Homo sapiens: one gene and its partner. The protein of the gene in region 1 interacts with the protein of each later gene in a biochemical or structural test. Each region holds a gene or a part of one and is shown in the gene's direction. Other genes may lie near its edges. The genes, in order: HABP4 and SRSF9.

Region 1 (9,562 bases):
CATGCCTGTAATCCCAGCACTGTGGGAGGCCAAAGTGGGTGGATTGCTTGAGCCTAGGAGTTTGAGACCAGCCTAGGCAACAAGTGAGACCCTCCCCCACCCAGTCTCTACAAAAAATACAAAAATTAGCTGGGTATGGTGGTGCATGCCTGTAGTCCCAGCTACTCTGGAGGCTGAAGTGAGAGGATCCCTTGAGCCCAGGAGGTGGAGGTTGCAGTGAGCAGAGATCATACCACCGCACTCCAGCCTGGGTGACAGAGTGAGACCCTGTCTCAAAACAAAACAAAACAAAAAAACTATCTATCTCTATCGGTGCTATGCATATATATTTGTGTGGCTCTCCAAGGTACTGTACACCCCTCCTTGCTTTTTTCTCATTCACTCTGGAAGGTGCTCCATAGCAGTATATACAGATAGTCCTCATTCCTTTTTTAGCTGCTATACTATAGTTTTTTCACCAAGTTCTTTTCTAGATAGGTTTGGGTTATTTCCATTAATTTGCTGTTCCAATGTCTTAGTATCTTTTAATATTTTTGCCAATATATATTTGAGATCTATATTTTGATATTGGTATTTTTCCAGCATTTTATTGTGAAAATTTCAAAACACAGCAAAGTTTAAAGAATTTTATAGCGAACATCTATACTTACCACTACCTAAATGCTACCATTTATATCTTATATATTCATTTTACATAAGTATTCATTAGTCCATGTTTTTTGACACATTTCATAATAAATTGTAGACATCTGTACACTTCCCCCTAAATAGTTCAACATGCATATCACTAAATAGAATTAATATTTGTTTACAATTTTTTCTTCTGATATAAAATGTATATACTATGAAATGTATAAATCTTAAGTGTACATTCACTGTTTTGACAAATGCATGTACTTGTGGAATCCAAACTCCTGTCGAATACAGAACATTACCAATCACGCCAGAAAGTTCTTTCATATTCCTTCATGTTATCTTTGCTTTGATGTTTTTTCTACCATCAGCTTGGTATTGTAGAGTCACTGCAAATTTGTCTATTTTGGATGCTCTGTGGTTAGGTTTCTCTACTGATTTTGCTTATATTTTTCATAACATTGATCTGTGTATTTCTATAATAGAACCTTAAATTACATCAGCTCTTCAGTGAAGATACAGATTTGATTCCCCACTCCCCACCTACTGTTTTGTTTTGTTTTGTTTTGGAGAAAGAGTCTTGTTCTGTCGCCCAGGCTGGAGTGCAGTGGTGCCATCTTGGCTCACTGCAACCTCCGCCTCCCGGGTTCAAGCAATTCTCCTGCTTCAGCCTCCCGAGTAGCTGGGATTACAGGGATTACAGGCGTGTGCCACCACACCCAGCTAATTTTTGTATTTTTAGTAGAGACGGGGTTTCACCATGTTGGTCAGGCTGGTCTTGAACACCTGACCTCATGATCCACCTGCCTCGGCCTCCCAAAGTGCTGGGATTATAGGTGTGAGCCACCGCGCCCGGCCTGTTTTTTCCCCTTAAACACTTTTGAGATATAATTCTCGTACTATAGCACTCAAATCTCTAAGTATATAGGCCAGGTGTGGTGGTTCAGATCTGTAATCCCAACACTTTGGGAGGCAGAGGCAGGAGGATAGCTTGAGGCCAGGAGTTCAAGACCAGCATGGGCTACATGGAGAGACCCCGTCTCTACAAAATGGTTGTAAAAATTAGCTGGGCCTGATGGCTCGTACCTGTAGTCCCAGCTACTCTCAGGAAGCTGAGGTGGGAGGATCCTTGGGCTCAGGAGGTTGAAGGTATGGTGAGCCATCATCATGCCACTGTACTCCAGCCTGGCCAACAGAGTGAAACCCAGCCTGTATCAAACAAATAAATGAGTAAACGACTGAATGCATGGATGGATGGTTTGGGGTATGTTACATTATTAATTTTTTAAAATTGCAGTAAAAATAACATAAAAATTGCCATTTTTACCATTTTAATATATATAATTTAATGGCATCAGTAACATTCATATTGTGTGTAACCATCACCACCATCCATCTCTAGAACTTTTTTTTTTTTTTTGAGATGGAATCTCACTCTGTTGTCCAGGCTGGAGTGCAGTGGTGCGATCTCGGCTCACTGCAACCTCCACCTCCCGGGTTCAAGCGATTCTCCTGCCTCAGCCTCCTGAGTAGCTGGGACTACAGGCACATTCCACTACACCCGGCTAATTTTTCTGGTATTTTTTAGTAGAGACGGGGTTTCACCGTATTGGCCAGGCTGGTCTCGAACTCCTGACCTCATGATCCGCCTGCCTCAGCCTCCCAAAGTGCTAGGATTACAGGCTTGAGCCACTGTGCCTGGCCTTGTAGAACTTTTTCATCACAAACAGAAACTCTATATCCATTTAACACTAACTCCCCATTTCTCCTCAGCATGTAGTAATCTCTATTTTACTCGTGTTTATGAATTTGCCTATTCTAGGTGCCTCATCTAAGTGGAATCGTTCAATGTTCCTTTTGCACCTGGCTTATTTTAACTATTAGCATCAAGTTTTCAGCTTCATTCATGTTGTAGCATGTGCCAGTCTTCATTTCTGTTTTTCTTTTTTTGTGTGTATTTTTGTGATGATTTTCAAATCTACGATTTTAATCCTTTTAAAGTGTACAATTCAGTGGCATTTAGTACATTCAGAGTGTTATGCAACCATCACCATGATCTGGCTCCAGAAGGTTGTTATCATCCCAAAAGGAAACCCCATGCCCATTCAGCAGTCACTCCCTATCCTCCCTCCCTGCAGCCCTGGCCACCACTGACCTGCCTCCTGTCTGTGTGAATCTGGCTCCTCTGAATATTTCATGTAAATGGAATCATACACAGAAGTCTTTTCTGCCTGGTTTATTTCACTTGCATCATTTTTTCAAGGTTTGTTCATGTCGTAATGTGTATTAATACTTTGTTTCTTTTTATTGCCAGATAATATTCCAAAAAATGTGCCATATTTGGTTTATCCACTCATTAGTTAATAGACATTTAGGTTGTGTCCACTTTTTGGCTATTATGAATAGCACTGCAGTGAACACTTGGGTTTAAGTTTTCATGTGGATGTGTGTTTTCATTTCTCTTGGGTATAAACCCAGGAGTGAAATTTCCGGGTCAGAGGCTAACTCAGCTTAGATTTTTGAGGAACCGCCAGACTGCTTTCCAAAGAGGCTACACCATTTCACATTCCCACTGGCAGTGTATGTGGGTTCCAGTTTCTCCACATCCTCCCCAACGCTTGTCAAATGTCGTTTTGGTTCTAACCATCCCACTGGGTGTGGACTGGTGCAGCTCTGTGGTTTTGACTTGTCTTTCTCTAATAGCTAATGATGTGCAACATCTTACTGCCTATTTGTATATCTTCTCTGGAAAAATGTTCACTCAGATCCTTGCCTTTTTTGGGGGGAGGGTGGTCATTTGTCTCAACTAAAGAGGACTTGTATCTAGAATTCATAAAGCATTCTTTTTTTTTTTTTTAAAGAGACAGTGTCTCATTCTGTTGCCCAAGGTGGAACACAGTGGCCATTCACACGTGTGATCATAGCTCACTGCAGCCTCAGATGCCTGGCCTCAAGCGATCCTCCCACCTCAGCCCCCTGAGTAGCTAGGACTATCGGCATGAGCCACCACGCTTGGCTGTTCATAAAGAATTCTTTATGTATTCTAGATACAAGTCCCTTGTGAGATATATTATTTGTAAATATTTTATCCCATTTTGTGGACTGTCTTTTTACTTTCTTGATGGTGTCCTTTGTAGTATAAAAGTATCTGATGATGTTCAATGTATGTACTTTTGTTGCTTGTTTTTTTGGTGTCATGTGGAAGAAACCATTGCCCAGTCCAGGGTTAAGAAAGTTTCTGCCTAGGTTTTCTGCTAAGAGTTTTATATTTTAGCTCTTGTATTTATGGTGTGAGGTAGGTCTAACTTCATTCTTTCTTTTGGTGTGTGTGGATATCCAGTTGCCCAAGCACCGTTTGTTGAAAATACTTTTCATTCTCCATTGAATTGTCTTTGGCACCACGGTTGGAAAAAAAAAATCAGTTGACCGTAAATGTGAGGGTTTATTTCTGGACTCTGAATTCTTTGCTCTCAATCTATATTTCTGTCTTTTGTTTTCTTTTTAAAACTCATTAAAGAGGATATTTGCAAAAGTATGCATTCATGAGCCACTGCTTTAAAACTTGTTTATGGTTTCCTGTATTTTATTTCAACCCATTGTCCATAATTACCTCATTTTGTCTGTCATGCTGTCTGGAAGGGAGTGCCAGTGGTGAAGTGTGATGTTAATGTCATCAGGATGGTGATGTTCCCATTTTTCAAAGATTGATTTGAACACAGATAGGAAGTATCTTCTGTTGGCAGTGATGACATAAAATGTTGAAAATGAAATATGGAAGCTTGTGAGTCAAAGATTTCCTTACCTTATTTGCATTTGAAATGCAGTACCACAAAAATATGTTGAATTAATGGTTATAACTTTTTCTTTATAAAGTAGACATTTTAGTACCATCAAAAAGTATTCTTTATGATTATATATCTCTTTATAGAGTTCCTGAGTTGGAGGTAGAAGAAGAAACCCAAGTTCAAGAGATGACTTTAGATGAGTGGAAAAATCTTCAAGAACAGACCAGACCAAAGCCTGAGTTTAACATCCGGAAACCAGAATCCACTGTTCCTTCCAAAGCCGTGGTGATTCACAAGTCAAAATACAGAGATGATGTAAGCATTGCATTTCGTATGTAGAGGTAATCTTTACTTTTACCTTACTGGAAGTGAAATGTACCTTTCCACTTCTGTCTTGAAAATGGAACATTAGTAGTTGGCAGTCTTTGTTTCTAATCAGAGATGATGCATGCCTAATTTTACTGTATTGTTCATTAAGAAAAGGAATTGAAACTTGAGGTATTGACAGATGCACAGAGCAGTTAGAGTGACAGTGCATCTTCTGCTCACCCTGGGACTATGCGGGTACTGTACACATACTGTGTATTAACTGTATTTCATTTTTCTCAAGGGAGAGTTACAGATTGTGTCTTGTACAATTCAGAGTTAATCAAAGGAGAACTACACTCTGTGTCCCCTGAGTAGGTTACTTTCAACTCTGTTTCTTGATAAGAGCATTTCACTGAGTAGTTGATGACTTTTTTTTTTTTTTGAGATGGAGTTTCGCTCTTGTTGCCCAGGCTGGAGTGCAGTGGCGCGATCTTGGCTCACCGCAACCTCCGCCTCCCGGGTTCAAGCGATTCTCGTGCCTCAGCCTCCCAAGTAGCTGGGATTACAGGCATGCGCCACCACCCCGGCTAATTTTGTATTTTTAGTAGAGACGGGGCTTTTCCATGTTGGTCAGGCTGGTCTTGAACTCCCGACCTCAGGTGATCCACCAGCCTCAGCCTTCTAAAGTGCTGGGATTACAGGCGTGAGCCACTGCACCTGGCCGAGTAGTTGATGACTTTTTAAACTGTGGTTGAGGTTCCATGCACTTCTGACGCCTTTCCCATGTTGGTTCAGCAGCTTTGCGCCCCCTGCCTAACTGCAGACGTGGCGGGAGATGAGTCCCCGAACGCTTGGCTGCTCGGTCAGGCACTGCCACAGCGGCCAGCGTGCTGCAGGGGTTGCTCAGGGAGCTCCTCCGTGTTGTGAGGCCTTATTGCTCACGGCTTACGTCCAGCTCTTCTCAGAAGCTTCAGTTTTGCAGGGAGAGGTTTCGGGGAAACATCTAGCAGCATATGTTGATAGGGATGCCATGGGGTCATCAAGTCCCCGACTTGTTACTGAACTTAAGGCTAGGTCCACTGAAGCATTCCCATTATGGGATTTAGAATCTGTATCATTCCATCTACAGCTTGATACCAGTCACTATTTCGAGGTGGGAGTGAGCAGGTAGCAGGTTCTTCCTCTCTGTGGGGTATTAGTTATTGATTTTCATGTGGAATCTCAGGAATGTTATGCTATTGTAGAGTTGTCATTTACACTTTGGTTAGTTTCATTTTCTGAGTGAGTACTTTGATTAGGTGTCATTTAAGATACAGGGTTCTTGGGAGGCCAAGGCAGGTGGATCACCTGAGGTCAGGAGTTCGAGACCAGCCTAGCCAACATAGTGAAACCCTGTCTCTACTAAAAATACAAAAACTAGCCGGGCGGTTGGCGGGTGCCTGTAGTCCCAGCTACTCGGGAGGCTGAGGCAGGAGAATCGCTTGAACCCGGGAAGCAGAGGTTGCAGCAAGCCGAGATCACGCCATTGCACTCCAGCCTGGGCAACAAAGTGAGACTTCGTCTCCAAACAAAACAAAAAAAAAGATACAGGATTCTCTCCCATCCTCTTGTTTTGGTCAGTCCAAGCTGTAGGAGGCCTTACTGAGTTTTGAGCTGTTCCACAAGAAATGGCTTTTTGTAGACATAGGCGGCCGGAGCTTTATTTCCCTGGCAATCTCTGGGAGGTGTTTTCTAACTCCATTAGCAAGCTGGGTTGGTTCTTAACCTGTCCACTTCCTTTGTTCTTTTTTGTTCTAGGCATTGTAAATAAAAATTTCTCTAAAACAAATGTGCTGTCAGGATTGAAATATGCAGCTGACATGTTAGGTAAAAATAGAAGCTGCTCTTTCTTAATCCACACCAGATTTGTCCTCCCGGGCTCCAGAGGTCTCCCAGAATATTTGAAGCAAGTGGGTTAGCTGAGTCATCAAGCCTGGTCTCAGTGAAGCACACATCTTGGTCCTTGTTAATCTTGGAGGATTGAAGATTTTAGCTAGGAATTGTTCTTAAAGCAACACAAGCCAGATCTTGGGTTCATCAGTTTACTTTGTTCTGGACACCTGAAGAGGCAGAAGCACTAGAATACCTAGCAAAGTTCAGACCTAGTAACAACCTCGCGTAAGGCACTGGGCGGTGAAAGCACTTGGGCCAGGGCCAGCTGGAGCTGCAAGTGGAGCCCAAGCCTTAGACTGTGTCCACTCCCTGCTCCACTGCCCCGAGGCCCTTCCTGCCCCTTCCTGCAGTGGGAGGCGACTCAGAGCAGGGACCCCAGGGAGACCTTACCAGCGCTTCCCTGCTGAGTGCCAAACAAGGCAAGGGTTGAGTATTTTGCCTGTTACTATTTTTTGTGTGTATCTTTTTACAGAATGCCAGTGCTCCTGGACTGTTTTTCTTCACCTTTTTAGCATTAAGCATCCAACTACCTAAAGCCTCTGCTTTATTTTAACCTGAGACCTCAAAGGGGACACAAATGTTAAACATGAAGGCTGTCATGAGCATATGGCCTAAAGGTGTTGATATGCTCGTGGAAACTTTGCTCCATTTCCTGGTTGTAGGAATGTTTAATGTTGTAGCACTTTGGAGATTCTCATCTGAAATCACTGACATATCTTCCTTTCTGTAGGTTTTTACTTTACTTAAAGTGGGGTTTTTGTGTGTGTGTGTGTGTGATACCCATTATTATGAGTTGAAGCCAAATCAAATTTGGATCAGATTTAATTAATTTATTTAATATAGCTGTCACAAGAGATAGAATTTTAATGAAAGCAGTTCTTAAAAAGCAGCTTGACTTCTTTGTGCAGTGTTGGTAGAACACTCAGGTAACCATACTCTTGTTTTTATAAAGTTTCTCTATATTTTGAGTCAGAATTGTTTATTATAAATCATGTGATTTTTAGCACATGGTATTATAATCAGCACCCATGCTGAAAGGAATTTCTCTGTTAAGTTCTGTTCTGGGAAGGGGATATTTCCTTATTTATCAAAGCATTTGTGAACAGATAAGACAGAAAATAAGCAGAAATGAAAACTTTTTTATCTCAGCAAAATACACTTAGATATAAAACATGTATATTGTTTGCTATTATTAGTCATGCCAAATCTTATATCTTAACCTGCTCAGCTGATAGAAATTTGGTCCCACTTGAAATCATAATAAGTTCAAAGATGTTTGGATTAAGATTGTAATTGCAAGAATGTGGGACTCTAGAACATACAGAACTCACTGTCTTAGAATCAGAACAGCAGTGCTGTCTTCCTTTGTCCAGCTCTGCAGCCCAGGGCCAGAGACAAATCCAGAGAATGGCTCTGACTAGCCCCTGATGGTGTTTTAGCTCCTGTGTAGCACACTGCAGCCACTAAGCCAGATGAGTGTGGGGATGGCTGTGGACTTGTGCGTGTTTGATGCTGTAATTGTGTTTCAGATGGTAAAAGATGACTATGAGGACGATTCCCATGTTTTCCGGAAACCCGCCAATGACATCACATCCCAGCTGGAGATTAATTTTGGTAACCTCCCTCGTCCTGGGCGTGGAGCCAGAGGAGGCACCCGGGGAGGCCGGGGAAGGATCAGGAGGGCAGAGAACTATGGACCCAGAGCAGAAGTGGTGGTAGGTGTCTGTATTGACGGTTTGGCGAAAGAAGTTAATAAGGACAGTGCCCTGGGCCCAGGATGGTCTAATTTCAGAGGGTCATGAGTTTCTGCAGTCACTTCTTTCTGTAGCTAGTGTGGGACTGATGTTGGGGCATTTGGACGGTGTTGTAGCATCATGGACATCTTGCCTAGAGACCGTTCTGTAGCCCTGGCTTCCAGGGTCTGCTGTGAAGGCACTCCCGGGATCAGAGAGAAACTCACTGTCACCCGCATTAGACAAGATCCCCAGGCTTGGGATTGAACTGGAGCACCTGACGTTTTGCTTACTGTGGCCTGATTGTGTGCCTTGGGCTCAGGTGATGCTGTCAGAGTGGACAGAATCCTCCCTAAGATCTCAAGCCCTTTGTGAGGGGACCTTCCTCAACCCCTCCCCGGCTCACCTGCCTCACACCGTCCTCAGCCAAGGCTGCCTGATTCTAGCTCTCAACACAGCACGCTCCTTACCCCTGGCCTCTGCCTGCTGGCCTCCATTCATCCTTCCAGCCTCACTTCCTCACAGGTTTCTTTGATCACATCTCCTAGACCGATCAAGGTCTCGGAGCAAAGGAGTTTCTTTTCATTGAAGCCTGATCTCCGTGTGCGGCTGTATTCTCACTGGTGTGGCTATCGGTCAGCGGCTGCTTTTGCTCATTACCGGTTTACGCAGTGCCACGCAGTGCCTGGCATGTAGTAGGTGCTTCCTAATGTGGTATGGACACTTATTCATTGGAAATCAGCCCCGAGGCCCCATGGCACAGACCCCTTCTCTGTGGCTGGTCTTGGCAATGCTCCTCCTGCTGCCCGGTTCCCTCGCTCTAGGGAGCAGCCCCTGGAAGCAGTGTCTATGGTTTGTTTTTGCTTAAGCAGGAGCAAAAACACAATTTTTTGGGCGGGGGGTGTAGGGGTATATTTGGGGCCAGGTTGGAAATAGGGTCTATTCTGCGATAGGAAACACACCCTCACTCCTTTCCTATAGCGGAGCTCTGTCCCCTGCAGCACTCCAGGGAGTGTGTTGGGAAACCACTCTGAGATCCAGTGCCACCCACCTCTTCACTGGCATCTGTCCCCACCTCCACAACCTGTGCATCCCTCCACCTCAGAACCGCCCTTAGGGCCCGCCCCCGCCCCCATCAGGTCACACTGTTTCCCAATCCAAGTCCTTGTT
Region 2 (9,540 bases), on another chromosome or scaffold:
TCACTTCCTCTCTGCCCACTGATACCTAGGGCCAAGGTCTGGGAGGAGCTCATGACTGAGCCTGACAGAGAGGAAAATATTTTGCTGGGATGCCAGAGGGGACTGATGTCACAGAGAAAAGGAGAAAACCAGATGGGCAGGTTTGCAGCATGTTTTATGCCTGGCGTTGTTGGTTTTTTGTTTGTTTTAAATTTTTATTTCAATAGGTTTTTGGGGAACAGGTGGTGTTTGGTTATATGGATAAGTTCTTTAAGTTATTTAGTGGTGATTTCTGAGATTTTCATGCACTCATCACCCGAGCTGTTGTTGGTTTTGGGATTTTTTTTTTTTTTTATGTTGTTTTTTTCAGTTGGGCACTGCCCTACACTCTGGTGGAGAATAAATGGCTTGCTGTGGGAACTGCATTAATTCTTAATAGTCTGCCAACATCAAAGGCTTCTTTTCAGTTTGGTGAAAAGAAGGACAAGCCCATTTCTGTAACAGGATCTCACTCTGTCGCCCAGGCTGGAGTGCAGCGGTGCAATATTGGCTCACTGCAACCTCTGCCTCCTGGGCTTAAGTGATTCTCCCCCCTCAGCCTCCCAAGTAGCTGGGACTATGGGTGTGTGCCACCATGCCCAGCTAATTTTTGTATTTTTTGTAGAGACGGGGTTTTAACATGTTGCCCAGGCTGGTGGTGCCTCAGCTCCTTCTCTCTTCTTCCCTGCTTGAACTCCTTGCCCCAGTCACACCAGTAGGGATTTTCCCTGGTCTGCTACTCTCTCTCCTATTTGGGTGATTTCTCATGGTGTCCTTTTTTATGTTTTGAGACAGAGTCTCACTCTGTTGCCCAGGCTGGAGTGCAGTGGTGCAATCATGGCTAACTACAGCTTCAACCTCCCAGGCTCAAGCAGTCCTCCCACCTCAGCCTCTTAAGTAGCTGGGACTGTCAGGTGCCGTGGCTAATGCCTGTAATCCCAGCACTTTGGGAGGCCGAGATGGGCGGATCACTTGAGCTCAAGAGTTCGAGATCAAGTAGCTGAGACCACAGGTGCACGTTACCATGCCTAGATAATTTTTTAATTTTTTTTTTTTTTTTTTTTTGAGACAGAGTCTCGGTGTTGACCAGGCTGGAGTTCAGTGGCGCAATCTCGGCTCACTGCAACCTCTGCCTCCCGGGTTCAAGCAATTCTCCTGCCTCAGCCTCCAAAGTAGCTGGGATTACAGGTGTGCGCCACCACCTCCGACTAATTTTTGTGTTTTTAGTAAAGATGAGGTTTTGCCATGTTGACCAGGCTGGTCTCGAACTCCTGACTTCAAGTGATCCACCCACCTTGACCTCCCCAAAGTGCTGGGATTACAGGCATGAGCCACTGGGCCTGGCAATTTTTAAGTTTTTTGTAGAGATAGGGGTCTCACTACATTGCCTAGCCTGGTCTCAAACTCCTGGACTCAAGCCATCCTCCTGCCTCAGCCTCCCAAAGTGCTGGGATTACTGCCACTGCACTCAGCAGTCATGCCCTCATTTTTGTCTGAAATGCCCTTCCCTCTTCCCCCTGGTTAACTCCTACTGGTTCTTCAAGACTCTAAACATCTCCTCCCAGAAGCCTTCCTTAGAATCTCTAAGACTGTGGTAGGTGACCCTCCGATGTAGTCTCAAGCAGCTTATCCTTATCACAACTGTACTCTACATGACCGAATAGCAACCTATATACACAACTCAAGGACAGAGCTGTATTATTGCATGCCCTGGGCCTCATACAGGACCTAAATCATAAATAATGTTGAATATCTAGATGAACAAAAAGTTTAAAAGGTGTCCCTGCCTAGAGTCTCTGGCCTTAGCAGAGAATGGAACCTATGAACCCTTTGAACATGAAGTCATAATTGTGGTCTCATTTGTGTTCTAACTGCAAAGGTCAGTACAGGAATAAAGGGGGTTTCATGGATGATCATAAATGCCTCCTAAGGATTTAGCTGTGCTCTATCTAATCCAAGAAGCCTGTACTAACCACATCCCTACATTTTCTGCTGGGTAACTGAACTCCTTTGGAGATTGTATGCTGCAGGACATTGCACAATTAAAGCTGAATTATTATTATTTGCAAGCAGTTTTCCACCTACAGTCCTATTGAGTCACTTAGCTGACTCTATTTCTCTCTCCCTAGGAGACTGCCCAATTGTCTCCAACAGCACTTTTTTTTCCTTTTTTGTCTTTCCAGGCAACAATCACATAGGAGTGGTAGGACTCAGAGAATGGTATTAATACACCTAAGCACACCACCCAAAATGAGAAGGCATCTGGACTTTCGGATGCCTATAGGATATGTAAGCTCCTATAAGGCTGCACACTTAGACTCGAGATCATATTTGGCCAGGGCTCTTTCCTGCTTGTCTAGAGAACAGCTAGATGCTTTACATAATCCAGAATACAACAGATAGTTATAATGGTTTTATTTTAGGAATCATTTATTATGTTTTATTCCAATTATAAAAGTAGTGCATGCTAATTACAATTTGAGAAATACAGAAAAGCATAAATAAAAACATAGAAATCACTGCCATCAAGAGATATCTCCACAACCACAACATTTGGAAAGCTTTTTCTATTTTTTTTTTGTTACAAGCAGCAAATACACTATATATGTGTATACATTAAACACCACTTTCAATTCACTTTAACTGTAAATTACTGTGACTTTAATATCTCTGTCATATTAAAAACATGACTTAATAATTGTGTAACATTCAAAGTTAATGTGTTGAGCCACTCCCTTATTATCAAGTTTAATTTTTTTAATTGCACAGAATGCAATGATAAATATACACATGTAATTTATTATGAGAATCTCTTGCTTATTTCCGTCTGATAAAAATCCTACAAGCAGCTGGGCGCGGTGGCTCACGCCTGTATTCCCAGCACTTTGGGAGGCTGAGGCAGGCGGATCACGAGGTCAGGAGATTGAGATCATCCTGGCTAACACGGTGAAACCCTGTCTCTACTAAAAATATAAAAAAATCAGCCGGGCGTGGTGGCAGGCACCTGTAGTCCCAGCTACTCAGGAGGCTGAGGCGGGAGAATGGCATGAACCTGGGAGGCGGAGCTTGCAGTGAGCCGAGATCACGCCACTGCACTGCAGCCTGGGTGACAGTGTAAGACTCCGTCTCAAAACAAACAAACAAAAAATCCTACAAGCAGAATTACAAGATCGAAGGGTATATGTATATTATGAAAGCCTGATGTATACTATCAACTTGTATTCCAAAAAAGATATACACTCAGTAGTATATGTGGGTGTCTAGTCTTTGGTTTGTTTTGATTTTAAAATGCTCAGATGGTATAATGAGAAATCAACTACCTTCTGATTAAATGTGTGGTTTTAGTCCCTTTTTTTGTTTGTTTTTGTTTTGTCTTGTTTTTGAGACAGAGTCTCCCTCTGTCACCCAGGCTGGAGGAGTGCAGTGGCACAATCTCGGCTCACTGCAACCTCTGCCTCCCAGATTCAAGCGATTCTCGTGCCTCATCCTCCCAAGCAGCTGGGACTACAGGCGTGCCACCAAGCTTGGCTAATTTTTTTTTTTTTTTGTATTTTTAGTAGGGGGGCGGGTCTTGCCATGTTGGCCAGGCTGGTCTTGAACTCCTGGCCTCAAGTGATCCACCCACCTCAGCCTCCTAAAGTGCTGGGATTACAGGCATGAGCCACCACGCCCAGCCAGGTTTCATTTTTAATATGAAAAATCTTTATTTATTTTTGAGACAGTCTCACTCTGTCACCCAGGCTGAAGTGCAGTGGCATGATCTCGGCTCACTGCAACCTTCGCCTCCCGGGCTCAAGCAATTCTCCTGCCTCAGCCTCCCGCGTAACTGGGATTATAGGAACACGCCACCACGCCCAGCTAATTTTTGTATTTTTAGTAGAAACGGGGTTTCCCCATGTTGCCCAGGCTAGTCTCGAACTACTGACCTCAAGTGATCCTCCCGCCTTGGCCTCTCAAAGTGTTGGGATTACAGGCGTGAGCCACCGCACCCAGCCTGAACAATCTTTAGGTTAGGAGTATTCCAGCCGGGCGCCGGGCTCAAGCCGGTAATCCAACACTTTGGGAGGCCAAGGCTGGAGGATCGGTTGAGCCCAGGAGTTCGAGACCAGCCTCTCTACAAAAAAAATAGAAAATAAACTAGCTGGACGCAGCGCAGACCCCTCACGGCGCCCCGAGGTGGGAGGATCACCTGAGTCCAGCGAGATCGAGACTGCAGTGAGCCGTGTTCGCGCCATTGCACTCCAGCCTGAGCAACAGAATAAGACCCTGTATCAAAAACAAACAAAAAGTCTTCTGGTGCAAGGCCTCACTGTAAGGTCCCTGGGTTCAATGCTCCGCGTTCTGGGATGTGAATGTGGAAAAGTAAGTGCCAAGGTGGGTGTCTACCTGAGCTCCATAAGGACTCAGTACTTAGGATGGGAGCATGGCTCTGGGTTCCATTCCTGACCCCTCTGTGGCCTCAGACTCTGCCCGGGAGAGGATGAAAAGCACAAGTCGGATGCACTCTATAGTGATCGCTGTGATACTCATTAAGAGTCTTACTCCCTCGACTCCGACAAACTCAAGGCCAAGCTATGGAGTCCATCTCATGCTGACACCGTCAGTTCTGAGCAACTGTAAAATGGGGACAGGGTGGCCCGGGGGCCTACTGACCTGAGGTGGGGGCCGCGACAGCCCGGCCGCTGCGGGGTCAGCCTGCGGTCTCCGCCTGACTCCAGCTCTCCTGCGCCCCGCAGGCCCTGGGCGCTACCCACGTCAGTGAGTGCTCACAAGTCTGTGAGGTAGGCGGCGCCACAGAGAGAAACTGAGGCGCGGGAGCCCAAGCCACTTGTCCAGCGCCTCAGCCGAGCGCGAACCGCGCTCGGGGATGGCATCCACACGGCCCGGCCCCAGGCTCTCCCTGTCAGCGCCCGAAGGCCCTTCGCACCTCCAGGGGGCGCCGGCCTGCGCGCACGCGCAATGGTCGCAGCCGCGTTCTCTTTAAGAGGACTCCTTTTGCCTCCGCCGACCCCTTCGCTTCCGCTCCGCGTTCCCACAATGCAGTGCGGCTGAGCGCCTCGGAGCCCGCGGGGACGCTGCGGGGGGACCCGTGCTGAGGCGGCGGCGGCGACGTGGGCTGCGGCGGGCCCGCGGCGTCGGGCGGTGCGGATGTCGGGCTGGGCGGACGAGCGCGGCGGCGAGGGCGACGGGCGCATCTACGTGGGGAACCTTCCGACCGACGTGCGCGAGAAGGACTTGGAGGACCTGTTCTACAAGTACGGCCGCATCCGCGAGATCGAGCTCAAGAACCGGCACGGCCTCGTGCCCTTCGCCTTCGTGCGCTTCGAGGACCCCCGGTGAGGCCCCCGCGCCCCTGCCCTCTCCTCCTCGGTGCCTGAGGCCCCCGCCTTCCCTGCTGTCCCCTCCCCCAGGGCTCCCCTCCCCCCGGCCTCCCCTCCCCCCGCCTCCGCGCAGACCCCTCACGGCGCCCCCTCACGGGTGGAGGATGAGGCAGCCTCTCCTCGCAGGCCCGGGCCGTCCTTCGCGCCGTCGTCACTTCCTTTATTTTTATTATTCCAATATTTTACTTAGAAACCCAAAAGCTGAGCCTTTGGAGGGCCCAAGCCCGCCTGCACCGGCCTCGGGGGGTCCAAATGAGCCTTGTCCGCCTCCTGCCTGGGGCAGCACCGTAGGGGGAAGCGGCCGCGGGGCAGCGCGGGGGTCGCCGTTCGCCCTTCCCGCTCGCCTCTCCCCCGGCCCGTGCTCGCCGTGGCTGGAGAGCAAGCTGCAGGGTCGCGGATGCCGCTGGAGGTCGTGGAGGGATCTCTGGTGGAATAGCTCGCCGTTCGCGCGCCCCGCCCCGCAGGCCAGGGCCCGGGCTTTGTAAAGGGATCACGGATTCGGGAAAACTTCTAAAACAGCCGGAGTGGGGCTCTGATTTCACTTCCCTCCTTTGATGAGGGAGGCTTGGCGAGATGCTAAAGGTTCCAGGGATTTGGAAACTCTAGATTCCTAACCCCGCTCTAAGGAGTGCTTGTGATTTTGCAAACAGCGTCGGCCCTCAGGCCGGAAAAAGCCCAGGAACTTTCAAAACTGTGGTTGGTGGTGGTTAGCAGCTGCGGCGCTGACCTGGTCACTCCACTCCGGCCAAATAAGAGCCCGCACCCTGTTTTCCTAGCATCATTTGCTCCCGGGGAACGCGGAATGTTCGTAGGGTGTCCGACCTACCTGGGGTGGACGTATTGATAGGGCAAGGGGAGCATCTGAGGAAGGGCAGGCAGGAAGCACCGCGAGGCGTTGATGGCTGAAGAGTCGACTCTGACAGCTCATCCCTAGTATCTCCTCATTTGCCTCAAAACCGGAACTGGGCATTTTTACCCCTAAGCCGGAGAAGGCTATGCCTCGCTTATTTAGTAACCGTGCCATTGTGGTTTTTCAACAGTTGCTATGGGTCAAGTGCCATGGTGTGTATTTAGCTTTTTTTCTTTCCTTCTTATTTTTTTAGATTGATAAATTAGGGGTTTCACCATGTTGCTCAGGCTGGTCTGGAACTCCTGAGCTCAGGTGATTCTCCCGTCTCAGCGGATCAAATTGTTAGGATTACAGGCGTGAGCAACCCGCCCAGCCTGTATTTAGTATTTTTAACAATTTATGAGGTGTAGGTACTATTTTTTTTTTTTTTTTGAGACAGGTCTTCACTCTTGTTGCCCAGGCTGGAGTGCTGTGGTGCGATCCCGGCCCACCGCAACCTCCGCCACCTGAGTTCAAGCGATTCTCCCGCTTCAGCTTCCCAGTAGCTGGGATTACAGGCGCCCGCCATCATGCCTGGCTGATTTTTCTATGTTCAGCAGATACGGGGTTTCTCCATGTTGGCCAGGTTTGTCTTGAACTCCTAACCTCAAGTGATCCACCCACCTCAGCCTCCCAAAATGCTGAGGTTACAGGCCTGAGCCACCACGCCAGGCCGGGATCAATGGATTTGAACTCCCTCTTCTGTTTTTCGAATGCAAACTTACTATATGATACGCTACATTGTCATCTTCCCTCATTCCTTTCATAATAGAAAAACTATCTTTTGGTGTCACTAGATGTGAAGATTCAAGCAAAGCATTTCATGTAGTATCTTATTTAACCATTACAATAACCCTGTGAGATAGGCATACTGTTCACATTAGAGATGTAAAAACTTGATTAAACACTTACCCAGAGATGACTACTAGTAATTTGCAGAATAGTGATTTGAATGCAGGCTAATTTTATTTATTTATTGTATTTATTGAGATGGAGTCTGGCTCTGTCGTGCAGGCTGGAGTGTAGCGGCACAGTCTCAGCTCACTGCAACCTTCGCCTCCTGGGTTCAAGAGATTCTCGTGCCTCAGCCTCCTGAGTAGCTGGGATTACAGCTGCGCGATGCCATGCCCAGCTAATTTTTATCTTTTTAGTAGAGACGAGGGGTTTCACCAGGTTGCCCAGACTGGTCTCAAGCTGCTAACCTCAAGTGATCCACCTCCCAAAGTGCTGGGATTACAGGCATGTGCCACAGCGCCTGGCCTGAATGCTGGCCAGTTTTTATTCAGAGTTGTTCTGACCTCCTAGCAGTTCTGCCTCTCCCAGTCTGCATTTTACGTAGTCAAGGTTGCACTGGATATGGTCATTGTTGCTTTTAGTTCTAAAATCTTACAAGTGATTATGTGCCTGTGACACTGAACAATGCCTTCATTAGCACATTCAGCTCCTCTTGTCCACCCAAGCTCCAAGGTCACACTTTCTACCATCCAATACTGGAGAATCAACGTGGCATTCCTGACTCTCCTAGAGTCCTAGGAAAGACTTAAAGTAATTTTATTGAATATTTATCTCTTTTGGCAAAATTGTATCCAAAGAATGTTTTTTGACAAAAATAGTTCTCCAAACCATGCTGAAAAGGTACACTTAGAGTTCCAAGGCCAGGCGCAGTGGCTTATGCCTGTAATCCTAGCACTTTGGGAGACTGAGGGGAAGGATCGCCTGAGCCCAGGAGTTCAAGACCAGGCTGGCCAGCAGAGGGAGACCTGTCTCTACAAAAAATCCAAAAATTAGCTGGGTGCAGTGGTACACGCCTGTGGCCCTAGCTATTCAGGAGGCTGAGGTGGGAGGATTGCTTGCGCCCAAGAGTTAGAAGCTGCTGTGAGTTATGCTCCAGCCACTGCACTCAGCCTTGGTGACAGAGCAAGACCCCGTTTCAAAAAAAAAAAAAGTTCCACATTCATCACAAAACACTCATTTGCATTTTTCTTTTGTCCTTTGAGCCTTATTTATTTATTTTTTTAAAAGACCGGGTCTCACTATATTACCCAGGCTGGCCTGACCTGGGCTCAAACATCATGCCCAGCTACTTTATTTACCCTCAAATACTCTCCTATCTAACTGGCTACTTTTTTTTTCCTGTTTTTTGGGACAGGGTCTCTGTCACCCAGGCTGGAGTACAGTAGTGTGATCTTGGCTCTGCACTCCCATCTCAGCCTCTCAAGTAGCTGGGACTACAGGCGTGCAACACCATGCCTGGCTAACCGCCTACTTTTTATTTCCATAGACTTTATGGCACTAGGCTTTGTAGAAAAATATTAAGGGGTTAGTGTGTGGTGTGCTTTTCGAGAAAATGCTCACGAAGATTAGAAAAACACTGATGGTTTATTGGCAAAATCAATAATCTGTCAGCAGTTGATTCTTTTTTTTCTCTGAATTAGCCCTCTTATGAGTAATCTGTTTGCTCATTCATTATAATTTCATACCTCTAAAACTGCGTGTGACAGCTGTAAAGGTTAATTCCAGTATCATGAAACGTCTCCAAACCAAAGCAGAAGTGCTTCAGGATCCTGATTTGTGTGTTTTTTTCTTCACTCTAGGTTTCCCTTTTATGCTTACTACTCATGCCCCTCACTTGGAAAGTCACTTGGCCTCCTGAACAGCACTAACTCCAAACGTTTTTTTTGTTGTTGTTGTTTTTTTTAGAGATGCAGAGGATGCTATTTATGGAAGAAATGGTTATGATTATGGCCAGTGTCGGCTTCGTGTGGAGTTCCCCAGGACTTATGGAGGTCGGGGTGGGTGGCCCCGTGGTGGGAGGAATGGGCCTCCTACAAGAAGATCTGATTTCCGAGTTCTTGTTTCAGGTATGTTCCTTTCAAACAGAATGAGATGATACATGTAAAATACTTAACACAGAGTCTGTCTTCCAAGAAATGATAGCTGTTATTCTTCAGTGCATGGGACACGGGGGCTTTCTTTTCAATAGCCTGTGTGAAGCCTTGCCCTGGATTGCCAATGAGGAAAGTATCCTGCAAATGAAATTGCGCTGGGAGTGCAGCCTTGGAAGAACATAACCATATTTCTTGTAAAGGAGTTTTCTAGTGGTGAGAAGGAAAGATGATGGGAAAACTTGAGCTACAATTCTAAAGATGCTTCTTTTGGAATATACTTGGCATCAGACATGGTAGAAAGGCATTCAAGGAGCCAGATTTGAACAACTTACCCAGCCTTGGATCCTGAAGAAGATCAGATTTT

Evidence for each region.
Region 2: the proteins of HABP4 (region 1) and SRSF9 form a complex in vitro, tested with the Homo sapiens proteins (one study listed by BioGRID).

What each region holds. Positions count from the first base shown.
Region 1 is NC_000009.12:96,479,901-96,489,462, forward strand, and holds part of HABP4 (intracellular hyaluronan-binding protein 4), read left to right. Parts: intron 1-4,561; coding exon 4,562-4,733; coding exon of another isoform or gene 4,734-4,757; exon of another isoform or gene 4,758-4,759; intron 4,760-8,188; coding exon 8,189-8,374; intron 8,375-9,562. UniProt on the Homo sapiens protein: Ribosome-binding protein that promotes ribosome hibernation, a process during which ribosomes are stabilized in an inactive state and preserved from proteasomal degradation.
Region 2 is NC_000012.12:120,465,236-120,474,775, reverse strand, and holds the start of SRSF9 (serine/arginine-rich splicing factor 9), read left to right. Parts: upstream 1-5,027; 5' UTR 5,028-5,166; coding exon 5,167-5,354; intron 5,355-8,988; coding exon 8,989-9,149; intron 9,150-9,540. UniProt on the Homo sapiens protein: Plays a role in constitutive splicing and can modulate the selection of alternative splice sites. Represses the splicing of MAPT/Tau exon 10.